7 linked regions of the Homo sapiens genome follow. The protein of the gene in region 3 interacts with the protein of the main gene of each other region in a biochemical or structural test. Each region holds a gene or a part of one and is shown on either strand. Other genes may lie near its edges.

Evidence for each region.
Region 1: the proteins of ANXA1 (region 3) and EEF2 interact in a test that uses a peptide from one of them, tested with the Homo sapiens proteins (one large-scale study listed by BioGRID).
Region 2: the proteins of ANXA1 (region 3) and AP2A2 interact in a test that uses a peptide from one of them, tested with the Homo sapiens proteins (one large-scale study listed by BioGRID).
Region 4: the proteins of ANXA1 (region 3) and GAPDHS interact in a test that uses a peptide from one of them, tested with the Homo sapiens proteins (one large-scale study listed by BioGRID).
Region 5: the proteins of ANXA1 (region 3) and MYH9 interact in a test that uses a peptide from one of them, tested with the Homo sapiens proteins (one large-scale study listed by BioGRID).
Region 6: the proteins of ANXA1 (region 3) and CLIC1 interact in a test that uses a peptide from one of them, tested with the Homo sapiens proteins (one large-scale study listed by BioGRID).
Region 7: the proteins of ANXA1 (region 3) and G3BP2 interact in a test that uses a peptide from one of them, tested with the Homo sapiens proteins (one large-scale study listed by BioGRID).

Annotation. Positions count from the first base shown.
Region 1 is NC_000019.10:3,979,010-3,982,463, reverse strand, and holds part of EEF2 (elongation factor 2), read left to right. Parts: intron 1-39; coding exon 40-218; intron 219-411; coding exon 412-517; intron 518-1,011; coding exon 1,012-1,125; intron 1,126-1,484; coding exon 1,485-1,623; intron 1,624-1,754; coding exon 1,755-1,950; intron 1,951-2,397; coding exon 2,398-2,656; intron 2,657-3,027; coding exon 3,028-3,135; intron 3,136-3,454. UniProt on the Homo sapiens protein: Catalyzes the GTP-dependent ribosomal translocation step during translation elongation.
Region 2 is NC_000011.10:932,370-935,869, reverse strand, and holds part of AP2A2 (AP-2 complex subunit alpha-2), read right to left. Parts: intron 2,346-3,500; exon of another isoform or gene 2,273-2,345; intron 1-2,272. UniProt on the Homo sapiens protein: Component of the adaptor protein complex 2 (AP-2). Adaptor protein complexes function in protein transport via transport vesicles in different membrane traffic pathways.
Region 3 is NC_000009.12:73,165,365-73,168,864, forward strand, and holds part of ANXA1 (annexin A1), read left to right. Parts: intron 1-732; coding exon 733-828; intron 829-2,132; coding exon 2,133-2,191; intron 2,192-3,500. UniProt on the Homo sapiens protein: Plays important roles in the innate immune response as effector of glucocorticoid-mediated responses and regulator of the inflammatory process. Has anti-inflammatory activity.
Region 4 is NC_000019.10:35,532,014-35,536,255, reverse strand, and holds the start of GAPDHS (glyceraldehyde-3-phosphate dehydrogenase, testis-specific), read right to left. Parts: upstream 2,801-4,242; 5' UTR 2,729-2,800; coding exon 2,662-2,728; intron 1-2,661. UniProt on the Homo sapiens protein: May play an important role in regulating the switch between different pathways for energy production during spermiogenesis and in the spermatozoon. Required for sperm motility and male fertility.
Region 5 is NC_000022.11:36,293,968-36,297,467, forward strand, and holds part of MYH9 (myosin-9), read right to left. Parts: intron 3,048-3,500; coding exon 2,876-3,047; intron 1,751-2,875; coding exon 1,538-1,750; intron 1,110-1,537; coding exon 965-1,109; intron 332-964; coding exon 125-331; intron 1-124. UniProt on the Homo sapiens protein: Cellular myosin that appears to play a role in cytokinesis, cell shape, and specialized functions such as secretion and capping. Required for cortical actin clearance prior to oocyte exocytosis. Promotes cell motility in conjunction with S100A4.
Region 6 is NC_000006.12:31,733,731-31,737,796, forward strand, and holds the start of CLIC1 (chloride intracellular channel protein 1), read right to left. Parts: upstream 2,801-4,066; 5' UTR 2,571-2,800; coding exon 2,532-2,570; intron 534-2,531; coding exon 424-533; intron 232-423; coding exon 106-231; intron 1-105. UniProt on the Homo sapiens protein: In the soluble state, catalyzes glutaredoxin-like thiol disulfide exchange reactions with reduced glutathione as electron donor. Reduces selenite and dehydroascorbate and may act as an antioxidant during oxidative stress response.
Region 7 is NC_000004.12:75,663,412-75,666,911, forward strand, and holds part of G3BP2 (ras GTPase-activating protein-binding protein 2), read right to left. Parts: intron 1-3,500.

The sequences.
Region 1 (3,454 bases), on a different chromosome or scaffold from region 3:
GGGGCCCTCACGGCTGCTTCTCGTTTCTCACACTTCCAGATCGATCCTGTCCTCGGTACCGTGGGCTTTGGGTCTGGCCTCCACGGGTGGGCCTTCACCCTGAAGCAGTTTGCCGAGATGTATGTGGCCAAGTTCGCCGCCAAGGGGGAGGGCCAGTTGGGGCCTGCCGAGCGGGCCAAGAAAGTAGAGGACATGATGAAGAAGCTGTGGGGTGACAGGTGAGCCCCGCGGGATATGGTGGGGGATTCCTGACACCTGGGGGTAGTGGCAGCGACGTAGGGGCGTGGTGTGCTATTCACAGCGTGGCTCAAGCCCACCAGGTCTTGCCCAAGCATGTCCCCTTGGCGACCACCCTCCCCAAGTCATCCCCTGGAGACCCTAACTTGATTTGGCTTGGCCTCTCCTTGCCAGGTACTTTGACCCAGCCAACGGCAAGTTCAGCAAGTCAGCCACCAGCCCCGAAGGGAAGAAGCTGCCACGCACCTTCTGCCAGCTGATCCTGGACCCCATCTTCAAGGTGAGTGAGGGCTGCGCCAGGCACCCCGCCGATGCGACTATTGGCCCTCGGCCCTGTGGGCTCCGGCCGGTAGCCTGTCGGCTGACTGGGCCCGTCTCCTTGTGGGGCAGATGCGAGATGGGAGGAGGCACAGCTCCTAACTGAGGTGGAGTCAGGGCTCCTCTCTTAAGATCTGGACTGCATAGCCAGAGCCTTGGGACCTCTCCTGCATTGAGGGGGTTGAATAACTTGTGGCTTTGGCGGTTCAGTGCTTGTAAGTCAGAACTTGGGTCCTTGTCTGAGTCAGAGTGGGCTTTTTCCTCTGCTCCACCACGAGGTTTCCTCCAGCTCCCGATCCGCTCAGCTGGCTGGGCCCGTGGTAGGCAGGCCAGGCCTGCTCCTGCTCCCGTGCTGCGTCCCCCTGCGCTGACCTGAGTCTTCCAAGCAGGAAGCAGTGCCAGGCTTCCTCCTGCTGTTCCCAAATGGGCTTTCTTGTTTCTTGGTGGGGAATGTAGGTGTTTGATGCGATCATGAATTTCAAGAAAGAGGAGACAGCAAAACTGATAGAGAAACTGGACATCAAACTGGACAGCGAGGACAAGGACAAAGAAGGCAAACCCCTGCTGAAGGTGCGGCCTGGGCCCAGCCCTCGGGGTGGAGGGAACACAGGCTGCTGTTTCCGGATGCTCTGACAGCCCAGGCCTGGGGGCTGAAGTCCTCAGCTGGGCAGGGACAGCTGCTGCCCCTTTCGCTTTAGACTCTGGGTGCTGCTGGAGACACATCCCAGCAGCCAGCCCCATCCGGGACAGGTGTGGGTGAGGGCCTTGGCAGGAGTGTGCATGGCCTTTGCCGCCTTCCAGAAGGGACTGTGCTTTGGAGAACGTTAGTCCTGACTTTGGCTTCCTTGGCTTCAAGAGAGGAAGCGTGTACGGGGTGGGGCCATCCTGGGCTCCCCAGGTGTCTCATGCACCGCTCTCTGCCCCCGCAGGCTGTGATGCGCCGCTGGCTGCCTGCCGGAGACGCCTTGTTGCAGATGATCACCATCCACCTGCCCTCCCCTGTGACGGCCCAGAAGTACCGCTGCGAGCTCCTGTACGAGGGGCCCCCGGACGACGAGGCTGCCATGGGTACGTGGTCCCGGTGGCCGGGCCCTGAGATGCAGCCGGATGACTTCCTGTTGCCCAAGGTTGTGGGTTGCAGGGTTCCAGAAGGCTGAGCTGCACTGGAATAAAGCTTGCGGGTTTTCTCTGTCCCTCAGGCATTAAAAGCTGTGACCCCAAAGGCCCTCTTATGATGTATATTTCCAAAATGGTGCCAACCTCCGACAAAGGTCGGTTCTACGCCTTTGGACGAGTCTTCTCGGGGCTGGTCTCCACTGGCCTGAAGGTCAGGATCATGGGGCCCAACTATACCCCTGGGAAGAAGGAGGACCTCTACCTGAAGCCAATCCAGAGGTGAGCAGCTGGGTGATGTGCAGGCCCCTTGGCACTGTTGCGGGCCCTGCCCTGCTCCAAGTCTTGGGCTCCTCAGTCGGGAGCTAGAAGTAAGGAGCATAGAAGGAATATAGGGTGATACTTGTGCCAGCCACAACTTTTGTTCTTAGCCCAGTGAGGGCATTTCTGGAGAAGCTCCAAGCCCCAGGGCACAGCACACCCCTGCTCATCTGTGTCCCTGGGCACAGGTGGGTGGCGGCCGTCGACCCATACCCAGGGAGGAGGGCAGTGATTCTGAAGAGGATGTTTCCTGACAGCCCCGACGCAGCAGTCAGGGCCTTGTGGAAGCCACCAGTCTGCCCTGGGACCTGGCAGGAGGGCCACCAACTCCGGGAGGGACCTGCCCTGGCCCTCCAGGGTCCAGCACAACCATCCCTGCGGCCTGCTGCCGCCTTCTGCTTCTTCCAGAACAATCTTGATGATGGGCCGCTACGTGGAGCCCATCGAGGATGTGCCTTGTGGGAACATTGTGGGCCTCGTGGGCGTGGACCAGTTCCTGGTGAAGACGGGCACCATCACCACCTTCGAGCACGCGCACAACATGCGGGTGATGAAGTTCAGCGTCAGCCCTGTTGTCAGAGTGGCCGTGGAGGCCAAGAACCCGGCTGACCTGCCCAAGCTGGTGGAGGGGCTGAAGCGGCTGGCCAAGTCCGACCCCATGGTGCAGGTGGGCACGGAGTGCACCTGCTGGGAGCAGACACCCTGAGGGGGGACGGCTTGTGTCCTGAGTTGTGGCTGTGTGGGTTGCTGTGGTTGGTGGATTGGGGTGACTGGTCATGAAAGGAGGGGTTCTTGGCTGTGGCTGTAAATGGAGACTCCTGCCCAGGCAGCCACCACCCTCTCCTAGGCTGCTCTGCGCGTGTTCACTGTAGCTTGTGGGACTTAACATTTCTTCAGGAGTTTGTGCTGGTCCCAGTTTCCCAGCACCTTCCCTGAAATCTTGTTCTGGCGGGGTCCCTAGCTAAAGGGAAGCTGGGAGCCTGGTCCCGCCTGTTCCGAGCCGCCTACCCCTTTGGTGCTGACCCGCATCCCTTTCAGTGCATCATCGAGGAGTCGGGAGAGCATATCATCGCGGGCGCCGGCGAGCTGCACCTGGAGATCTGCCTGAAGGACCTGGAGGAGGACCACGCCTGCATCCCCATCAAGGTGAGGCGCCAGTGACCAGCCTTCCCCACGCCCCACCCCGGACACCTGCCCTCTGCTTTAAAGCTGAGCTGAGCTAGGCTCTGCAGACGCCTAGACTTGATCTCGGTCTTGGTCTCAGCTTCTTAAGTTCCTCAAGTTTCTTCTTTGCAGTCTTCCACAGGCATGTGGGGCTGTTTTTGTTGTTGTTGTTGTTTTTTTTGAGATAGTCTCGCTGTGTCATCCAGGCTGGAGTGCAGTGGCGTGATCTTGGCTCGCTAGAACCTCCACCTCCCGGGTTCAAGCGATTCTCTTGCCTCACTCAGCTTCCTGAGTAACTGGG
Region 2 (3,500 bases), on a different chromosome or scaffold from region 3:
TAATTCCCAGCACTTTGGGAGGCCAAGGCGGGTGGATCACGAGGTCGGGAGTTCAAGACCAGCCTGGCCAAGATGGTGAAACTCCGTCTCTACTAAAAATACAAAAAATTAGCCAGGTGCCTGCAATCCCAGCTACTCAGGACGCTGAGACAGAGAATTGTTTGAACCCGGGAGGCGAAGGTTGCAGTAAGCCGAGATCACACCACTGCACTCTAGCCTGGGCAACACAGCGAGACTCTATCTCAAAAAAAAAAAAAAAAAAAAAACTGGCCGGGCACAGTGGCTCACACTTGTAATCTCAACACTTTGGGGGCCCAAGGCAGGCGCATCACTTGAGGTCAGGAGTTCAAGACCAGCCTGGCCAACACGGCGAAACTCTGTCTCTACTAAAAATTCAAAACCGCCCAGGCACAGTGGCTCATGCCTGTAATCCCAGCACTTTGAGAGGCCGAGGTGGGTGGATTGCTTGAGGTCAGGAGTTTGAGAATAGCCTGGCCAAAATGGTGAAACCCCAGCTGGGCGCGGTGGCTCACACCTGTAATCCCAGCATTTTGGGAGGCCGAGGCTAGCGGATCACAAGGTCAAGAGATCAAGACCATTCTGGTCAACATGGTGAAAGTCCGTCTCTACTAAAAAAAATACAAAAATTAGCCGGGCATGGTGGTGCGCGCATCTGTAGTCCAAGCTGCTCGGGAGGCTGAGGCAGGAGAATCACTTGAACCTGGGAGGCAGAGGTTGCAGTGAGCAGAGATCGCACCACTGCACTCTAGCCTGGCAACAGAGGAAGACTCAGTCTCAAAAAAAAAAAAATGGTGAAACCCCATCTCTACCAAAAATACAAAAATTAGCCGGGCATGGTGGTGCGCTCCTGTAATCCCAGCTACTCCGGAGGCTGAGGCAGGAGAATCGCTTGAACCCAGGAGACAGAGGCTGCGGTTAACCAAGATTGCGCCACTGCACTCCAGCCTGGGTGAGAGAATGAGACTCCATCTCCAAAAAAAAAAAAGAAAAGAAAAGAAACACGTACTTGCTATTTCAGCTACATTACATGAAACACAAAGGCGGTCCACAGAAAAAGCAAAACATAAATCCTAATACAGTGCCGCCTGCCCTAAGGAGCTCAAAGTTCTTTAGATATGCTAAATAACTAATCCTCATTACACCCTTGTGCTGCCATCAGAGGGATTTTAAAGGTAAGAAAAACACCCCACAACGCAAAAACAAAAGCCAGGCACCCCATGTTGGCTGTTGGTCTCTACACTTCTAAGCAAACCCGTAGACAGACACCAAAGCTTAGGGTGGGTGAGAAGAAAGGTAAATGGGGAGTATCCTGAAGCCAAGCACAGAGATGAACACAAAACCATCACAACTCGGAGTCTGAATTTCAGGCAAAGATGAAGACTCCAGGCTCTCGACAGGGCTACAATTTGAAAAGGTGGGAAAGGGCTGGGCGCAGTGGCTCACACCTATAAATCCCAGCACTCTGGGAGGCTGATGGGGGAGGATCACTTGAGCCAAGGAGTTCAAGACCATCCTGGGCAACATAGTGAGACCCTGTCTCTAAATTTTAAATATAAATATAAAAAATTTAAAAGTGGGAAACAAAGGAGAGTAGAATCAGGATCTGACCCAAACCCCCGGCTAGAAGTGTTATTCCTAAGAACGCACCCAGCAGGAGGTCTGCCACTCGACCTGGAGTTTCGACCTGGAGTTTCCTGAGGTATCGGGGTGGGGGCGCTGAGGGAGCTACATGGGGCAGAAAGAACCTAGCATGGGAGTCAGGACTTCCCTGGCCTCAGGGACACACAGCAGCTGTGGGCACAGCACTCCTCCTAAAATCCCGGAGCACCCACCAGCCCCTCAGCCCACCCCTGGCACCCTGTGCTCCTGCCACCTTCCCAGCCTGCTGAAGCCTTGATACCCCCAACCATTCCCACACTCCAATCACCAGGTAAGGGGAAGTGCAGGCTCCAAAAGGCAACAAACGTTTAAAATCGAGAATCAACTGAACAGAAGATACAAGTTCCCCTCTGCCAACAATGTTTCAGGAAAAAGCGTGCAAAGCTGGCAGAAAGTCATGTCTGAATACAGAAGCATGGTTCCAAGCTCCCTGTGTCTCTGGGGTCATCCCCGCTCCTGAGTGCCCACGAGTCACTGGAACTCGCCTCTCCCACCCTGGTGCTGGGCATCTCACTGCCTCACACTCTTCTTGGTCCTCTTCCCAATTCAAGTCTCCAGGGCGCTATTTAAAATAGGGCTGCTTCCTACTCACATGCTATTTCTTCTATGCGTCTTGGCCAGACCCTTACAACCCTGTCCCAAGCACAGAGCTCATCTTACCACACAGCTTCAGCCCCCACTTCTACACGGGAACACCCACCTCAACCTATCCCACCCACCCGGAAATTCTCTCGTGACAAAACTGCACATACTGCTTTTCAAGACGTTTCAACCAGCTCAGCTTTCAAGCTAAAGTCAGGAAGGTTCTGAAGAAGGAACATGCTGCCAGAATCAGCAAATGTGGTTTTATAATCTAAGTCTGGGACATCATGTGGCCTGGTAAAAACTGTTCATTTCTGGGGTTTTTTGTTTGTTTGTTTTTGAGACGGAGTCTTACTTTGTCGCCCTGGCTATAGTGCAGTGGCGCAATCTTGGCTTACTGCAACCTCCGCCTCCCAAATTCAAGTGATTCTCCTGCCTCAGCCTCCCAAGTACCTGGGATTACAGACACGTGCCACCACACCTGGCTAATTTTGTATTTTTAGTAGAGACATGTTTTTCCATGTTGGTCAGGCTGGTCTCGAACTCCCGACCTCAGGTGATCCACCTGGCTCGGACTCCCGAAGTGCTGGGATTACAGGCGTGAACCGCAGCGCCCGGCGTATTTGATTTTTTTAAGAGCCAAGGAAATGCCATTTAATCCTTCACTGACAGCCTTTCCAGGAACTCTTCTACTACAAAATCTTGACACAGATTGTTACCAAAAGTAACAGTTCATTTTAAGAGGAAAGAGAAGTAATAGTAAGTATCTGGCACAAAATATGTTCACCACCAGGACACTTCAACTTGTCATAAAAGAAAGTGATCCTGACCTTCAGAGGAGCCAGACGGAAAACACTGTGAAGAGAACCAGGGTGTCCCAGAAGCAGTGACCACCAACCTTGGCAAGAAAAATTCAACCCGAGCAAGGACTTCCTTCCTTCTCTCCATAGCCACCATGACACATTTCCTAAACTGGTTTCTAAGGAACACACATTATGCAGAAGCATGCAAAAGAAGACATGCAAGGAGAGCATTCTTTTCTAAGAGTCAGCACTTTTTAGGAATGTACAGTCAAAAGGACAAAATGAGCTTTTAACTGTGAAGGTTATTTAAGAAATGCAAAAGCAGACTGACCAATTCTGATGCTGATCTTCACTCGTCTGCACGAAAATCAGTATAACTTTATGTTTAATTTTTATACTGAAGTTTAAGCAGAGTTTAAAATTTAGTGTTCAGTT
Region 3 (3,500 bases):
GTCCAATTTTGTACAGCCGCTACTTTATCATATTTAATACATTTTGTGACTTGGGCATGTGGAACATAATTTTGTTATTTTCACTGCTTTTACTCCCCTAAAAGATTTGGAATATGTGTGGGAAAAGACATGCATAACAGAACAAATGAAATTAGAATGAAGAAAAACAAAAAAAAAAAAACAAAAAACCCTCAGAGCTAAATGAAGAAAGAAATATGTAGGTGCTTTGGAAAAACAACAACAAGACAAAACTCAGAAAAAGTCCTGGCCTTTGAGTGCAAGATTTAGCTCTGGGCCTCTTGGAAGTGAAGGCGATGGAAAAGTTATGACAATTACCAAAGTTCACCATCTTATAATAGTATACTGATTTCTACTGTTAAATGTAAGAGAAATTTAGTGCACAGGTCTTTATATAAGGGAAGATCCATTTGCTGTGGCTCTTAGAACTGCTGTAGGAAGTGCTATAGTTGTCAATCACATGCCGTTTCTAATAACTGTCAACATTTGCAAACATTTCGCCAAAATATATAGGAATACCAAAATGGCCAGGTAAGTTACATTCCTAGGAGAGGATGAAGTATTCACGTTATGATTAATTGGGTATATTGCTTTAAAAGGTGTAGCCAAAGTTGTTATTCTAAAAAATTCTTTGAGTCAGTTGCCTTGATTTTGCTAAAGCTTTCTAAAGAAAAGGATGTTTTGCATGTATCTTAGTTTGAATTTAATATTCAGTGTTTCAGAAATACACCAAGTACAGTAAGCATGACATGAACAAAGTTCTGGACCTGGAGTTGAAAGGTGACATTGAGAAATGCCTCACAGCTATCGGTATGTAGTCCAGCAGTTGAAAGAGTTTTCTAACTAGAAATTGTATTTTCAAAGCTATCCTATACTTAACAAGAACAACAGCAACAAAACCAATAAAAGAAAACAAAAAACAATCAGAAGTAGTGCATCTGTTTCAATTGAAGCAACGTAAAAGATTGGCAAAGTACTATAACCTTAATAACAATAGATATTATTCCCCTTTTCAAAAATAGAGAGAGATAGACTATACTTATTGAGCACCTACTTATATCAAACAATGTACCAGGCTGGGCACACCACAGAGGCAATTCAGAATGGTCACTGAGAGCATGGGATCTGGAATAAATGTAACATCTGGATAAATGTAACTTCAAGTCCTGGTCTACTGCTTGTTAATTGTACAATCTTGGGCAGGTCCAGGAGAGTCTGATTCAGTGGGTCCGAGTTGGCCTCTAAAAATCGGTACTTTTTAAAGATCTCCCAGGTTATTCAGACAACCATCAGGGTTGGGGAACCTATGTTCTCAAGCAGTGTTTCTCATTCATGACTATGCACTTGAATCCCCTGGAAAGCTTGTTAAAATGCAGATTCTGATTCCCCAGGTCTGGGGTGGAGCTTAGATTCTGCTTTTCTAACAAGCTCCCCATTGATGCCAATGCTGTTGGTCCATAGATCTCGACAAGATGAAGAACACTATGAACTGGAATGTGCTAGTATTATTTGGGTTCTGTTTTATATTTAAGCCCATCCTATCCCAGAGTTTTTTCTTCATTTATTCATTTATTTTTACTTATTTGTTTGTGCAACTCTTACTTTAGACACAGAGGTACATGTGCACGTTTGTTCCATGGGTGTTCTGCACTCAGGCAGTGAGCATAGTACCCAATAAGTAGTTTTTTGACCAATGCCCCTTCTCTCCCTGCCCTCTCTAGTAGTCTGCAGTGTCTGTTGTTCATAGGGTGTTCTTTTTAAATGTTCTTATAGTAACATAAATAAAGTATTTACATAGGCTTGAACACCTAGTGGCTTCTCCACTCCCAAGGAGAATATATGTTGGATAGCGCAAACTACTGAAGTTGCTCTTGAGATGTATTTAAGGTAATAAAAAAATTGATCGTCAGGGAAAAGAATATTCAAAACCACCATCTAGAGAGTCACAAATACCTTCTCAGAAGTTAACTGCCCTATATTGGGAGATGAGAGGTGAAGAATGATGATGAGGGATAGAACACTGTTGGCAAAATTCTATATTTCCTGTTTCTTTCATATGGATATTTCATTTTTTTCATGGTAAATACATCAACTAAAATTTTCTTCTCTAACAGTGAAGTGCGCCACAAGCAAACCAGCTTTCTTTGCAGAGAAGCTTCATCAAGCCATGAAAGTATGTACCATTCTACTTATATGTCCTGCTTAGAGGAAGAATTATTTGTAGAAAGAACAGAAAACCTCATGTTGTTTGAAAATCTCACATTTAATATCTTCCCATTAATGAGAATCATTGTTCTATTTGATGAAAGAGGTAATACACTACCTTCTCAGAATAAACTTCTGTTAGATTCGGTGCTTTTTTTTACAGATGAGATTGTAAAGTGAGCCTGTAAGTGATTTACGGCTCACTTGTGATTTGCTTAAAACATGTGTCACCACGGGAAGGGTGATGTACTTTCTTTTTTAACGTGTAATTTTAGTGGCCTACTTCCTCTAAGGTTGTGAGTTTTATAATCTCCCACTTTATGAGTCTGATTTGTTGTTTTTATTATTCTGTCTTTTATGCCACAGATTAATAGTTGAAACTTTTGAAATGTCATTCTATGATTAAGGATGTAGAATGATGTATTTGAGATCAACTATGTCACTTTAACTTTACTGTCTGACATGCATGGTATTATACAAGGTACCTCTTCTATTCTGACATTTTGAGCCCACAAATGAATAGTTATGAAGTTATCTTCCTTTTTTCTTTGCAGCTCCAAAATAAGGAGGTTTTCAGAGAGAGAGAGAAAGAAAGATCTAACTATTTGAATAATATGAAGGAATATTTTGAATATATATGAATAATTTGAATAATATGAAATGATAGACATGCTAGGTACTGCTCTGTAGTGGTTAGCATAGTTGCTGCCCCCTTTCTGCCATAGTCTAGTGTGATATTTCGTTGGGTAATGATGAATACCTGGTGCCATGGAAGAGAAAAGTGGGACATATACTCCAGACTTTGGAAATCCAGGTAGCATTGCTGTCAGCTAAATTAACACCTGAAGTTTAAATAGAAATGAGCCAGATGAGGGCAAGAGTGGAAGAGATGGGGATAAAGCAAGGGTGGTCCAAGAGGAAGAAGTAACCCACACACAGGCTTGAAGGCAAAAGGTAACATAACCTTCTCAAGACAGTAAGTATAGAGTGATGGTGCACACTGGAAGAGATGGTAGAATTAGGCAGGATATTGTAAGCCTTGAAAAAGAATTAGGCAGGATATCGGAAGCCCTGATTAGATTCTATCCTAAGAGCAACAGAAGATCACTGACAGTGTTTTAAATAGATAGACTAGTTTATTAGATTTGCAGTTTAGAAGTTCCCTTTTTTTGTAATTATTGGACAGTGTAGAGACCGGATGGTGAGAGATGAGTTAGGAAGTTGTGACAGCTCTCTATACCTACCGCTAATGTAGAGGATTATTTATTTTCATTTCA
Region 4 (4,242 bases), on a different chromosome or scaffold from region 3:
CTGTGCCTCAGTTTCCTCCTCTGTAAGGGGAGATAATAGTACTTTTCTTAGAGGGTTGTTGTGAGGATTAAATGAGGTAATACATGGATTGCTTATGACCAAGCCGAGGAAATGTTTGACATGCATTAGTATTTTGTAGATTGTTCCCCGAATTTGTCCAATAATTGATTTAGCCCAGTGGTCCCCAAACTGTTCCATGATAGGAGTCGTCGGAGTGGCCAGGCGTGGTGGCTCACACCTGTAATCCTGGCACTTTGGGAGGCCAAGGTGGGTGGATCACTTGAGGTCAGGAGTTCAAGACCAGCTTGGCCAACATGGAGAAACCTGTTCTCTACTAAAAATACTGTAATCCCAGCTCCTCGGGGGGCTGAGGCAAGAGAATCTCTTGAACCTGGGAGGCGGAGGGTGCAGTGAGCCGAGATTGCGCCACTGCACTCCAGCCTGGGCGACAGAGTGAGACTCTGTCTCAAAAAAAAAAAAAAATCACCTGAGGAGGGCTCTTCCTAGAAAAATCGGACTCAGTGGGTCTGTATGGAGGCCCAGAAATCCTGTTTTTAATCAGCACTCCAGGCCGGGAGCGGTGGCTCACGCCTGTAATCCCAGCACTTTGGGAGGCCGAGGCAGGCAGATCACCTGAGGTTGGGAGTTTGAGACCAGTCTGACCAACATGCAGAAACCCCGTCTCTACTAAAAATACAAAAAAATTAGCCAGGCGTGGTGGCACATGCTTGTAATCCCAGCTACTCAGGAGGCTGAAGCAGGAGAATCGCTTGAACCCAGGAGGCGGAGGTTGTGGTGGGCGAGATCGTGCCACTGCACTCCAGCCTGGGCAACAAGAGCGAAACTCCATCTCCCAAAAAAAAATAAAAAATAAAATAAGCACTCCAGGCATTTCTTATCCTCAGGGAAGCTTAGAGAGTACCGTGTATCATACTCTGTGAAACCCATGGAAGCTCACATTGGCTCCCACCTCTCCACACACACTCCTGCTCCCAGACTGCACTTAAAAACACCTGCGCCTGGAGGTAGCAGCCGCCTGAGCTACAGAGGAGGGCTTGAGAAGAGGGGAGAAGTGGAGACTCAGGGGACCTGGTGGCAGAGAGTTTCAAGCTGGAAAGTCAAGCCTGGCTCAGTCCACACAGACCTGCTGCTCTGTGGATTTGAGCAAGTTAATGAACCTCTTGGGGCTGATCCCCCACCTAGGGGCTGCTGTGAGGGCGCAGTGAGATCTCGAGGCCCACACATAGGAGCTGATTTTAATAGAGGAGGGAAGTCTGATCCTACACAGATTCCTGAGGAAAGGGAGACAGCAGGGGGTGGAGAAGGGCTGGAAGGGGGTAGTGGGAGTCCAAGTTTTTGGCACCAAATCAAAGGCACCTGGGGGGTGGTGGGGCTGGGAGCCGGGGGCCAGCTGGCCTGTCTGTCTCCCTGACCTCTCCCTGTTGCCACAGACCTTGTGGCCTGAGGCTGGACTATAGGTGTTTCCAGTGGCTGTCCAAGTTCATGAAGGTGTTAGTGTTTATTGGTGAACTTGAGGATGTTTGCATCCTTGGGGGTTGTTTCTGCTATGGGAGAAAGGGGATTTGTCCACCTGGTTCAGGTGGGAATCTGAGCCCAATGGGTGACCCTTCCGAAGAAAACTCAGATGGTCCTCCTCTCCCAGCACTCCCAGCCTTGCACTCTCTTCCCCTCCACTGTAGGGGTGGGGTCCCCCGGTTGGAGAAAAGCCTGGGGGCTAGCTGGGTGCTGCCCCCAGCTCCTCACTGCGTCCTCCCACTGAATCCCGAGAGGCATGCGCTATAAACCCACTTTACAGAGGGGAAAATGAAGCCTGAGGCCACGGAGCAGTGATGCGCAGGGCAGGGGTTCAAGTCTCATGAGGCTGGTAAGCCTGTCTGCTCCTGTGTCTTCCAGGGTCTCCTGGACCAAAGCCCCAGCCCCACCTACCCCTGCGGCCCCCGCCCTTGGGAAGTGAGGGAACAGTGTGGGAATGGAGGCAGCCCACCGGAAGACCTGGTTCCTCCGGCTAGAGTGAGTGAGTGAGTGTGTGTGTGTGTGTGTGCGCGCGCGCGGGCGCGCCGCCCTTGTTGAGAGACTAAGGAAGTAGTTTGCCCTCTCTTAACCTCTGTTGGCCGCTCTGTAAACTGCGGGCACACTCTGGCCTTCTCAGGTGGTGGTGAGGCTTCCCTGAGCTCTCGCCTGCGAAGTGGTCAGCACGTCCCCGGCAAGGTTCCAAGTGTCCTTGTTTTGTGCATCACAGGGAGGGCAAAGCTCACCTCACGCGAAGCGCCATGAACATCACTTTTACATGGAAGCCCAGCACCCCTGGGTTCTCCCTAAGCCCCTCCTAAGCCCGCCCACTTCCCGCCACTTTCAGGCTGCAGCCTCCGATGGCCCTCGTTTCTGCTCTTTCTACCGCGTGATAGCGGCGCGAAGCCCACCCAGCCCTGGGGGCGGAGGCCCGGTCTCCCCGCCATGGCAGTAAACCCCACTCTGCCAGCACACTGGCGGGTGTGGAGGGAGGGAGAGCGGCTGATCCCCTGGTCCCTAGATGGTGCACACGCCAGGAAGGGCGGTAGGGATACGGCACAGGTGTGAGGGTGCAGACGCTCCCCACTACCCTTTCCACCCCTCCCCCGCGCCCTCCGCTGCCTCCCTCACCCGGGCACGGCTGTCGCAGCAACTGGACAACGGTGACATTGGTGAGGACGATGTCGCGCTTCGACATGGCCTCTTATAAGGTTATCATTGGCCTGGACCTGCTGTGATGTTACCGAGGTGCGTGCGGAGCGCCAGGGCTGTGGGTCCTGGGCTAATTGCCCTGATGTCACAGCACCCAGTGACGTCACAGTACCCAGTGACGTCGCCGAGGGGCGGCGCCCAAGCCAGAGGCCTGACACCATCGCATCCCATCCCCGTAGAGGCATGGGACGTCAGCACGCTATGCATCACCGTTCCACGGCCACGCACTGCCGTCTGGAATGGAATCCCACTTTTTAAAATTATCATTTGTTTATTTATTTTGAGACGGGGTGTCACTCTTTCTCCTAGGCTGGAGTGCAGTGGTGCAATCATGGCTCACTGCAGCCTTGAACTCCTGGGCTCAAGCGATCCTCCCGCCTCGGCCTCCTGAGTAGCTGGGACTACATGTGCAGCCACCACTGCAGGCTATTTTTACTTTTTATTTTTTTGTAGAGAGAGGGTCTCACTCTTTTGCTCAGGCTGGTCTAGAACCCTTGGGCTCAAGCGATCCTCCCACCTCGGCCTTCCAAAATGCTGGGATTACAGGAGCGAGCCACCACACCCAGCCTGGAATCCCACCTTTTACACTGTTCCTGAAAGCCCTTTCCTCTTCTCTGTCTCTTGAAGCACACAGGTTCCATGCTGTCCCTTGGATTCTCCAGTGGAGTGACTCTTGCTGCCTCCGTATGCCTGGAAGGCCCACCCAGGGCTTCCCTTGGCTGCCTCTTGGTTTCCCACCCTTTAAGAGAGGCTTTCTACACTCTGCATCTAAGTTCCCTCCTTTCTCTGTCACTGTCAGCCGTCACCCCCTTCCCAATTTCTGCCCATCTTCCAGGAAGCCTTGTCTGACTTCTCCATTCTGAGTTATGCTTCAGTGTGCAAAATTTCTCTAGGGCTACACTGTCTATGTTTTTATTTTCCTTAGAGCACATGTCTCTCTAAAAATTGTTTGTTTTCTTGCCAACTGTCTCTGTCCACCAGACTGTAAGCTCTGAGAGGACAGGGACGTCATCTATGTCACTTCTGTATCCCATTGACAAGAAAAGTGTTTGGCACCTGAAAGGTGTTTGTGGGCTGGACGCAGTGGCTCATGCCTGTAATCCCAACACTTTGGGAGGCTGAGGTGGGAGGATCATTTGAGTCCAGGAGTTTGAGACCAACATGGGCAATGTGGCAAAACCCTGTATCTACAAAAAATAAAAAAAGTAGCCAGGTGTGGTGGTGCATGCCTGTTGTCCCAATTATTAGGGAGGCTGAGGTGGGAGGATCACTTGAGCCTAGGAGGTCAAGGCTGCAGTGAGCTGTGATTGTGTCACTGCACTCCAGCTGGGAGACAGAGCAAGACCCTGTCTGAAAAAGGCGTTAGCCCAATAAACTATACCTGAATGAATAAATGTCAATTCCTCAGGTTTCATCTGATCGCTAATCTTTTCTTTTCTTTTCTTTTTTTTGAGACAGAGTTTCGCTCTTGTTGCCTAGGCTGGAGTGCAATGGTGCGAT
Region 5 (3,500 bases), on a different chromosome or scaffold from region 3:
ATGAGGGTCTGAGGAGCCAGTTTGAGAAGAGAGAGAGACAGAGAGCACACATGCACCTGGGGACCTGGGCCACAACTGCTGCTAGGGCCCACTGCCCGCGCCAGGGTCCTGGCGGAGGCCTCACCTGCAGCTTGGTGACCTTGTCGGCCAGCTCTGTGCGCACGCGCTCTCCCTCGTTGAACTTGACCTGCAGCTCCTGCAGCTGCGCCTCCACTTTCTTGCGCTTGTGCTCCGAGTCCCCTTTGCCCTGCAGCAGCACCTTCACCTCGTTGGCCAGCTCCCCCCGCTCGTTCTCCAGAGTCTGCTTTGCCTTCTCGAGGTTTGCTTTCACCTAGCAGGGAAGAAAGCAAAGACGTGAGTGGGGGCCTCCTGACACAAGGCTGGCTGGTCTATCATCACTGGACCCTAGATCCAGACATCGCTGCTTCTGCAGCCCTGACGACGGTGTGCCTGCGTCCTGGACTCAGACGGCTCGGGCCTCATCTGTCCTGTCCTCTTCTCTCTTAGCTGGTGGGTGACACTTGGTTCCTGTCTTCACTGCTTAGGACATCTCACAGCTTCCCCATCTCTAAAATAATACCTGCCCAGCCTTCTGCCCTGGGTAGAGGCCAGGTTCTAGGGCATGGCATTGGTGTTGCAGATGTTAGCAATATTTGTAACGCAATAAGGGGAACTATAATTGTTTGCAGTTAGACTTCCAATAAAGCCTGTCTGAAGTCTGATGTTCAAAGTAACGATGTAATGTTTTCACCCTCAAATAATCACGAGACAGACATACCATAATCCTCCCTTATGAACAGGGAAACTGAGGCACGAGTCACAAAGCCCCTTAGAAGGGGAGCCTGGCCTCAGAACCAGGCAGTTGGGTAGAACCCTGCAACTGCTCTGCAGGACTGGTTTGGATTCTGTGGGCCCAGCACGGGGAACCCTGCCCTCCCCCTGCGGTCTCAGGGAGGCTCCGCACCCGCTTCGTCTGCTCCAGCTGCTCCGCCAGCTCCTCCACGGCCTGTGAGTGCTTCTGCCTCATCTCCTGGATCTGGGCCTCGTGGGTCTTGGCCTCCTCCTCCAGGGTCTTCTTCAGGATGTTCACCTCCTGCTCACGTTTTGACCTGGACAGAGAAATCCCCTCAGAGTGGAGGCCGGGGATGCTGGAGCGAGGCTGTCCCTGGGGCTCTTCCCTGACCAAAGAGAGGCCTGGCCAGGGCACAGGCACTCCAGGCAGCTTTTCTACCCACCGGCCCCTCCTAGCCATCTATCCCATAGCCCAGGCTCAAATACGCCCTGTGAGAGCTTCTGTAGCCTTTCAGCTTTAAAGCCCAGCCTTGCCTCACCCCCAACTTTGAGCCAGGTCCTTCAACAGACTTTCTACTCTGTAGAGAGAAACCGCTGAGGAACCAGCAGCTTCCATGCCTGCTGGTGCCTAAGAGGGCCACGGTGTGTGTGTGTGTGTGTGTGCAGAGGCCCGGGGTCCATGTCTCCAAGCCAAGGCCCCCCTGGCTGCCCTCCCCATCCCGAGGGACTTGGTCCCAGGGCACACCTGAGCTCCTGCTGGGCAGCTGTGGAATCCAGCGTGTCCTCCAACTCTGTTTTCAGAGCCTCTAGCTCTTCCCCAAGGTCCCGTTTCTGCTTCTCAGCTTTATTCCTGGAAGCACGCTCAGACTCCAGGTCTTCCTGGAGTTCAGAGATCTGAGATTCCAGCTCCCGGATCTTCTTGAGGGCCATGTTCTTCTGGGCAGCTTCCTCTTCCACTCTGCCAAAGCGACCAGCAACATCAGTATAAGGAGAGTTTCACCTCCAAGGAGCAGAGTTTGCAGGACAGGCCTGAGAGAGCTGCAGCAGCCAAAGCTGCCTCCTGTGGTCACAATCATGGCACTTAGGATGGCTCTCAGCAGAAACAACATCTGAGACAACCAGATTGAAGGGCAACACCCCTCTGAGAAGCAGAAAACCTCATAGAGGAATCGTTTCAATTTCCAAAGTAAGATTCACTGCTTCAAATATTTTTAAAAGTCAAATGATGTGTTAAATGGGAAGAAAAGGAAATAAAACGCTACACCACAGGACAACTGCAACTCAGTAAAAATACGAATGTGCTACGGACTTTAGATGGTTATGACAGGTCAACGTAGGTTCACCAATTAGAACAGACACAGCACTGTGGTAGGGGATGTTGACTGCAGGGGAGGCGGTGCGTGAGTGGGGCAGTGGATAGATGGAGAATCTTCTGCTGACTCTTCTGTGAATCTAAAACTACTCTAAAAAATAAAGTCTCTTTCTTTTTTTTTTAAACAGAGTCTCGCTCTGTCACCTAGGCTGGAGTGCAATGGCACGATCTTGGCTGACTGCAACCTCTGCCTCCTGGGTTCAAGTGATTCTCCTGCCTCAGCCTCCTGAGTAGGTGAGATTACAGTCGTGTGCCACCACACTGGCGAATTTTTTATATTTTTGGTAGGGATGGGGGTTTCACCATGTTGGCCAGGCTGGTCTCGAACTCCTGACCTCAAGTGATCCACCCGGCTTGGCCTCCCAAAGTGCTGGGATCACAGACGTGAGCCAACGTGCCTGGTCAAGTCTTTTTTTTTTTTTTTTTTTTTTTTAAGTGTGCCTATAGCAAGAAATTAGGAAAGGACTATTGTAGGTGGGTGATAGAGCTGTGGATGACTTTTTTTCAAATTATAAACAAACAAAAGACAAATGAGGCCCCTCACCATGCCCTGAGTGCACAAGAACTGTTTTGCTATGAAATAAATGGCTCTTTTAAGACAACAGTGGAAAGAATGCTCACAGCTCACTAGTGCCGAGAACTAGGGCCAGCAGCAAGCAGGAAGGGCTGGCCCAGGCCACCTGGCCTCAGGCGGGCAGGCGGGGTCCTCACCTGGCCAGGGCGGCCTGGAGCTCCTCCTCTTTCTTGGCCAGCTGCATCTTGAGCTCCGCGATCTGGGCCTGGAGCTCGGCGATCTGGTCGCTGAGGTCTGTGGAGTCTCCCTCCAGCTTCCGGCGGGTCTTCTCCAGCTCCTGTCGCTGCTTCTCCTCCCTGCGGAGGCGCTCTGCAATGCAGGGGGAGCCCACATAGCCCTCAGTGCCATGGGTTCTGTCTCCGTGTCAATTACTTATACAAAATACTGAGCACTCGTTATGAAACGTGTGTCAGGCTTAAAGCATCACAAACACACAGACACTCGCACCCAACTCCTGGATGCAGGAAGAGGACATCACTGCAAACTGCTAGCCCCTGGCATGTCTCTCTCCAACTCACCCCTTGTCCTTCCCTGCCAGGAATTAAGTACTCTCCTAAAGCTGGTGTTTGTAATTCCCTTGGTTCCCTTGAAGGCTGTACCATGTCTGTATCTCTAAAAAACATGTTCAATTGTGTGTGAATCTGAACTTATATAATGGAACTGCCTTGTGTGAATTCCACAGTTGGAATCGCACGGTCAGGGCTCTATGTCTAGCTTTATAACTCTGTGATGTCACTTGGGAAAGCTACTTTCTATACCTCA
Region 6 (4,066 bases), on a different chromosome or scaffold from region 3:
TCTCCTGCCCCAGCCCCACCACCATCTCTGTTTTCCATTTCTGCAAACTGTCTGTTTCCCAGAATCTCCCTGCTCCACCTCTCCACTTTCTGAGTGCCCCTATACCTGGGAGGGCACAGCACTGCCTCCAGAAATTCCTCAATCTTGTTGGTGTCTGTGTGCACTTCAGTGCCATACAGCAGGAATGGGAGCTGCCCCCCTGGGCACAGCTTCTGCACTGTCTCGGTCCGCCTGGAGAAAGGATCAGGAATCAGGACTGGAAATGGGGGTCAGGAAGAACCAGAAAGGGGGAATGGAGGACGTGGGATAAGAAAGGGACTCCAGGGGGAGGGCAAAAATGTTCATGACAGAAGGACTCGGGTGGGTGTGTGTTTGCACACATGTGTACACCAGGGGTGTTTCAAGGAACATAAGCAGGCCTACCTTTTGGTGTCAACGGTGGTAACATTGAAGGTGACTCCCTTGAGCCACAGTACCATGAACAGTCTCTGGGAGAATGGGCAGTTCCCAATCTTGGCCCCATCACTGCCAGCCTGAAAAGTAACCCCAACCCAAGGTTATGCCTGATGCACCCCACCCATCCCTAGGCCAGTCCCTGCATTCCCACTCCCAGACCAGCTGTTTTCTGCCTAGTCATGACACATACACTGTCCCCTCACTATGGGCTCTTTGCCCTTGGGCCTGGGTCAAACCTAAGGCAGATCAATGGGAAACTGTTTTGCAAAGGCAGGCTTCTGGTTCCCCAGACACTGAGGACAGGTGGGAGGTAGGTAGAGGGAGGAGGTCCTGGAGAACTTGGGAGGATCTGAATCCTAGAGAGGGAAGGGTGTGGAACTTCAGTGAGGCCAGAGTTGTAGGCTAGAAGCCTGGATTTCTGGGTTCCTGAAGGGAGTAGAGTCTGAAGACAGGAGAGGTGGGTGGGGTTTGGGAGCCAGAGTTTTGGTTCTCTACACCTCCAATCCAAGGTGTCTTTGGGTGGGGAGTCTAGTCAAGGGGCCCTGGGCCTCGCGCTAGAGATGTGGAGGGCCCTACAGAGAGGGGCTGCCCTCTAATTAGCAAGTGGTGACCTCATTGGCCCAAGGGACACCTCCCCCTAAGCTGAGGGTGATTCATCTCTCTGTCTCCGGCTTCCTTCCTGTCAAGGATGTGGGGGAAGGGACAGTGAGGATGAGGCCTGGGCAGCTAAGGCTACCCCTAACCTGCTGCCAGGGTCTCCCAGCACAAGTCCTCTGACTGCAATAACCATCCTCTCACAGGACACAGGGCCGGAATCTCTGCGGCACAGCCTCACCCACGAGTAAAAATAGCCCCGGAGGCGAATGTGAGAGTGAGGTGGGGACCACACCTAAGGGGGCGGACCCAAGCAGGCTCCGACTTCCCTGGGCCCAGGGAGAGGGAATGGCTGCCCGAGAAACCCAAGCAGAAGGGAGAGGGAGACACAGGCAGAGACACACAAAGATGAGAGAAACAAAAGGGGGGAAGGGGAAAGAAAGGCGGCAGGAAAGTGGAGAGTGGGGAGACGTGCGTGCCAACGGAGAGACACAAACGGAGCGGGGAGAAGAGGACACTGTTAAGGAAGGGAGGGAGGGGCACAGCCAGGAGGTCCCAAGACTGGGAAATGAATGCAGCAGCGGTAGGGAGGGGAGCGGCCGCTGCAATCAGAGGGGGGCTGGGTGACACCGAGAAGCCTGCTGCCTGCAGTTTTGCTACCCAAATGCCATAGGACCATCTCTCCTTACCCACACCCGCAGAGAGAGGAGAGAGTTGGGGCAAGTCTTCTACTTCTCCAACCCCCAAATCCCAAAATGCCCTAACCGAGCTCTTCTCCTCCGTCTGATCTCTCTCCCACCCATCCTTGTGGTAGCTACGTTAAACTCACGTCTTCTTGCCACCTCCCCTTCTGTCCCTTTCCCCAGTCCTGGGGATATTCAATGCCACCCGATCACCTCTCCAGCTCTGCTTTTCAAACTCCGATCCCAGTCTCCTGTTTTGTTCCGCCCCTCCAAAGCTTCCCAATTTACTTGCTCTCACTCTCAGGCCTCCCTCAACACACCGTCTTCCCTGAAGCGTCTCCATCCACACACACACACACACACACACACACACACACACACACACACCTCTCCTACTGCACTACTCACCCTCAGATCTTGTAGGGACACATGTCCTAACTGAGGTTCCCCTCTGTCCCTTCTAAACCCTGCTGGGCCCCCACTGTCCCTTCACCAGCTCGCCCTCTAACCCCACCCCAGTCTCACTTTTGGGAATTCTCCTTTTTCTCCACTTCCCTTCCTTTAGTCTGCTAGAAACTTGCACTTTTACAAACTTTTCAGGGTTGATCCTAGAATTCTCATTACTTGCTAACAAGTTAATGTCTTCCCCTCTCAAAACCACCCCTCAACCAAAGAGTGCACGTGGGATTGGGGGTGGGAGTCAAGGAGGGAAGGGATTGGGGAGTTAAGGCTGGACCGGGGGAAAGGTGAGAGTTGGCTTCCAGGAATTTGGGTGGCTGAGGAGAGAAGTGTTCTTACCTTCACGAACAATTCGACCTGCGGTTGTTCTTCAGCCATGGTTGCGTCGGGGACCAGGAAGTGGCCGTCCCTGGGGGAACTGGGAGGGGCTGGGACCGGGGAAGGCGGGTCTCACACTCAGGGACTCTCTCCCCTAGACCCAGGGCTGTCCCTTCAGCACAACACAAGCTCAATCAGACCTACTTGCACCCAAACTAGGCCTCCCCACCAGCCCAACGCACCCCACACCCAGCTCCTCCAGCTCGGTCCTCTCCCGGGCTGGATCAGAGAGCCGCTGACTCACCGACCGGCCCCGCCCTGAACCTGGGGAGGGGACTGGAGGGGGGCGGGACTCGACGATGTAGGGAGTGAGTCCGGAAGGGGAATCCTCGGATCTCCCACAGGATGGGGATGGGGGTGTTAAGGAGGAGTCCTGAAAACCTCCTTGTTTCTCCGACCTCTCCTGAACACAGGACTCTTTTCTGCCTCAGTTTCCCTGCTTCATTAATCTGAGTACAACCCGACTGACCCTCATATAAAAAACTTGACACTAACAGCTTGGGCACACCCGTGAAGATTCAGGGATGGGGACTTCAAATGGAAAGGTGGTCGTTTAATCATTCTGCATTTCTTCCAGACTCCAATCCAAATTCTGGGTTGCTGGGACTGTGGTCTGAGAGAAGAACTCGGAAGTGGAAGGCTGGGACTGCAGATAGGAACCGTTAGCCATGCAGCCTGGGATTAGGGAAGGGGTGACGCCAGCACTCCCTGAGCTGCCCAGACTGGTGTCTCAGTAGGTCCTGTGCCCCCCGCAGTCTACTGTCTCCGGGCCCAGCTCAGCACTAGGACTTGCAGTCCTTGTGGCCTACACTTGGGATTGGGCATAGGAAATAGAGTTAGGGGCCGGGTGAGGTGGCTCACGCCTGTAATCCCAACACTTTAGGAGGCCAAGGGGGGTGGATCACCTGAGGTCAGGGAGTCAAGACCAGACTGGCCAACATGGTGAAACCCTGTCTCTACTAAAAATACAAAAATTTGCCAGGCGGGGTGGTGGGCACCTGTAATCCCAGCTACTTGGGAGGCTGAGGCAGGAGAATCAATTGAACCCGGGAGGTGAAGGTTGCAGTGAGCTGAGATGGTGCCATTGCACTCCAGCCTGGGCAATAAGAGCGAAACTCCATCTCAAAAAAAAAAAAAAAAAAAGAAGAAGAAGAAAAGAAAAAGAAAGTAGAGTTAGGGATGGGAAGGGAGATGACGAAGTCTTTTGCGAAGGAAACATAAAGCCGAGGCAAGGGGCTTTGTTGCAGGGAGGGGTCTGTTCCTGTAGCTTGGTCAGCTTTGTGCTTCCACTTATGTTTCCTATTGGGGCCCCTTCCTGTGCCCTTTGTCCTCGTCTCACTGACAGGTTGCCTTGGAGATGGGGCAGAGGGGTGGGATTATCATGGCCCGATCCTGAAGTATGTGTATAGGGGGTGGGGTAGGGGTGTTGTTAGCTGGTCCTGTCATGGGGATAAAGAAAGATCAGACAGAATAGTGGGAGTAGAGTCCTTGGGGAC
Region 7 (3,500 bases), on a different chromosome or scaffold from region 3:
CATGCACCTGGCTAATTTTTTTAAATTTTTTAATTTTTATTTTTAGCAGAGACGAGGTCTGGCTACAATGCCCTGACTGGTCTCGAACTCCTGGCCTCAAGTGATCCTCTCACTTCAGGTGTGAGCCACAAACAAAACTTATCATTTACTGTAGGAATATAATCCCCAGGGCCAGGTACGGTGGCTCACACCTGTAATCCCAGCACTTTGGGAGGCAAGGCGGGTGGATCACAAGGGCAGGAGTTCAAGACCAGCCTGGCCAAGATGGTGAAACCCCATCTCTACTAAAAATAAAAAAATTAGCCAGGTGTGGTGGTGGGTGCCTGTAATCCCAGCCACTCCGGAGGCTGAGGCAGAGAATTGCTTGAACCCGGGAGGCGGAGGTTGCAGTGAACCAAGATCGCGCCAGTGCACTCCAGCCTGGGCGACAGAGCGAGACTCGTCTCAAAAAAATAAAAAATAAAAATATGAAATATAACCTATTTTATTTTTGAGATGGAGTCTTGCTCTGTTGCCCAGGCTGGAGTCCAGTGGTACGATCTTGGCTCACTGCAACCTCTGCCTCCCGGCAGAGCAATTCTCTTGCCTCAGCCTCCCGAGTAGCTGGGACTACAGGCACGTGTCACCACACCTGGCTAATTTTTGTATTATTAGTAGAGACGGGGTTTCACCATGTTAGCCAGACTGGTCTTGAACTCCTGACCTCGTGATCCACCTGCCTCAGCCTCCCAAAGTGCTGGGATTACAGGCGTGAGCCACCGTGCCCAGCCACCTGTTTTATTTTAAAAAGACCTATTAAACTTAAAAGTACTAAAAAAAAAAAATCATAATTCCTAAGCATGTATCTACTGGGTAAATCAGGATGCAGTTGAAATTCCTGCTTAGCCAGGTGCGGTGGCTGACGCCTGTAATCCCAGCACTTCAGGAGGCCAAGGTGGGCAGATCGCCTGAGGTCAGGAGTTCGAGACCAGCCTGGCCAAAATGGTAAAACCCCTTCTCTAGTAAAATACAAAAATTTGCCAGGCGTGGTGGCTGGCGCCTGTAGTCCCAGCTACTTGGGAAGCTGAGGCAGGAGAATCGCTTGATCCCAGGAGGCAGAGTTTGTAGTGGGCCAAGATCATGCCTCTGCACTGCAGCCTGGGCAACAACAGAGTGAGGCTCCATCTCAATAAATAAATAAAGTCCTGCTTAAACTTCAGGTTGAGCTGGGAGGATCATTTGAGATCAGGAGTTCGAGACCAGCCTGACCAAGATGGTGAAACCCCATCTCTACTAAAAATACAAATAATTAGCAGAGCTGATGGCACACACCTGTAATCTCAGCTACTCAGGAGACTGAGGCACAAAAAATCACTTTAACCTGGGGGACAAAGGTTGCAGTGAGCCGCGATCACACCACTGCACTCCAGCCTGGGCAACTGAGTAAGACTCTGTCTCAAAACAAACAGACAAAAAAACACTGCAGGCTGGCACAGTGGATCATGCCTGTAATCCCAGCACTTTGGGAGGTGGAGGTGGCAGGAAAGCTTGAGGCCAGGAGTTCAAGACCAGCCTGGCCAACAGAGAGACCCCATCTCTATACAAAAAATTAAAAATAAAAAGTCAATTTCCATGTGTGTTTACTTTAAATAACTAAAACAATTTCAGAGACAGCCCTGCATAGGTCATTAAAATTGTGATGCTGTTTTTAATAAAAATCAAATACCAACTATAGTAGAGCTTACAGATAGAGTGTAGCTTTACATAATTCTAGTGACTCACAATTCAACTTCTACATTATGTTTTTAGGTTCCTTGTTTCTTCCTTTCCAACAAACTATCCCTCCTCTAACTGTCCTTCTTAAACTCTCAAACTTGATTTACAAAAATCCCCAAATCTGTTTAAAATTTTTTATAATGCCTCACTTGCTTTCAAAAATAGTTAATTCACAAAGAGCAGATCCAAATACTGCCATTTCAGGTGTCATTGATTTTCCAGAAAACTTAAAACTCCCAATAAGGGTAACAACCCTAGTGCAAAAAGGACTCACATATGCTACATTTAAAGTAACAAAGCACTGGGCTGTGGCTCACGCCTGTAATCCCAGCACTTTGGGACGTCGAAGTGGGCAGACTGCTTGAGCTTAGGAGCTGAAGACCAGCCTGGGCAACAAGGCAAAACCCCATCTAAAATTAGCCAGACATGGTGGTGCACACCTGTAGTCACAAACACACAAACACACACACACACACAAACACACAAACAAACACACACACACACACACACACACACACAGCTAAGCAACTAACATTTTTATTTTGAATAATGAGGGTGGGTAAAGAACAGTAGACTTACCTGGTAAAATTTAACAAGATAACTAAAACATGGAAATTATATGTATTTTAACACCATAAAAACTGATGGTAAAATAATACTAACACATGGGAAAATACTACATTACTCTCTGAACAAAATAACTATACACAAAATAGTTTTCTTTAAATTGATAGTGACAGAAATACTATTAGGAATTTCCGGGTTTGGGAATTGTTTTCTTCTCTCTGGATTTCCAGATTTTCTACAGGAACACTGTTGTCATTTATCCCAAATTTCCCATCATATTCATAGAGTACATACTGATCTATCATTTTTGTCACTTACATATTTGTTTCTCAAACCAAAATAAAATGGTACATAATACATATATAATATCACAGGTCAAAATGCTCTAAAGATTTGTTGTAACAAGGTTCAAAAAAAGCTTCAAATTGCCCACTATCTACATGGTCACTGAAGTATAATGGCCAACATACCATCAATTTAGAACAGAGAGACAGGGAAGGGCAGTAGAAGTAATATTTGATTAATCAATACTCAATAAATTAATACTTAGAACTATTGGAAGGCAGTAACTTGAAAAGTTAACTTCAAATGGTAAATAAGTAAGGCAATGCTAATCTGGTAAAATCTAAACAGGCATATAACAGGTTATATAGAAAGCTGAGCTTTTAAGGTGCAGAGGAGGCTCCCAAAGGAATGGTAAAACAAAATCAAGATTTACTGAGAGAACAGTGTTTCAACTAATTACATCAGTTACTTCTTTAACCATAACTCCGATTTGAAGTGACTCAGAATTTAGAGAGCCAAAATATAATTGATAGAAATCAACCAGAAAATGACTACTAGAGATCAACCATCAAACAACGTGGTTTGGGTATTGCAGGAAATAAGACTATGAAAATTGAGTAAGTAATATAAAGTTCGTATTTATAATTCATGCAGTGTACGTAAGAAGGTTGAGAAAAAGGAAAAAAGCCAAATTACACTTTCAGAATAAAAGTGATTACAAGAAGAAAGAATTGTGCCATTTTTATTATTCATAGCAAATCATCTTACAGGTAATCCATTTCTAGATCTGGGACCTTCCATTTCTTAAAAAAAGTTAACAAAACGAAACAAAATTCTGAATATGGGAGTAAAAGGTTTCAACTATCTTATCCATGGCCATGAAAAACTCATGA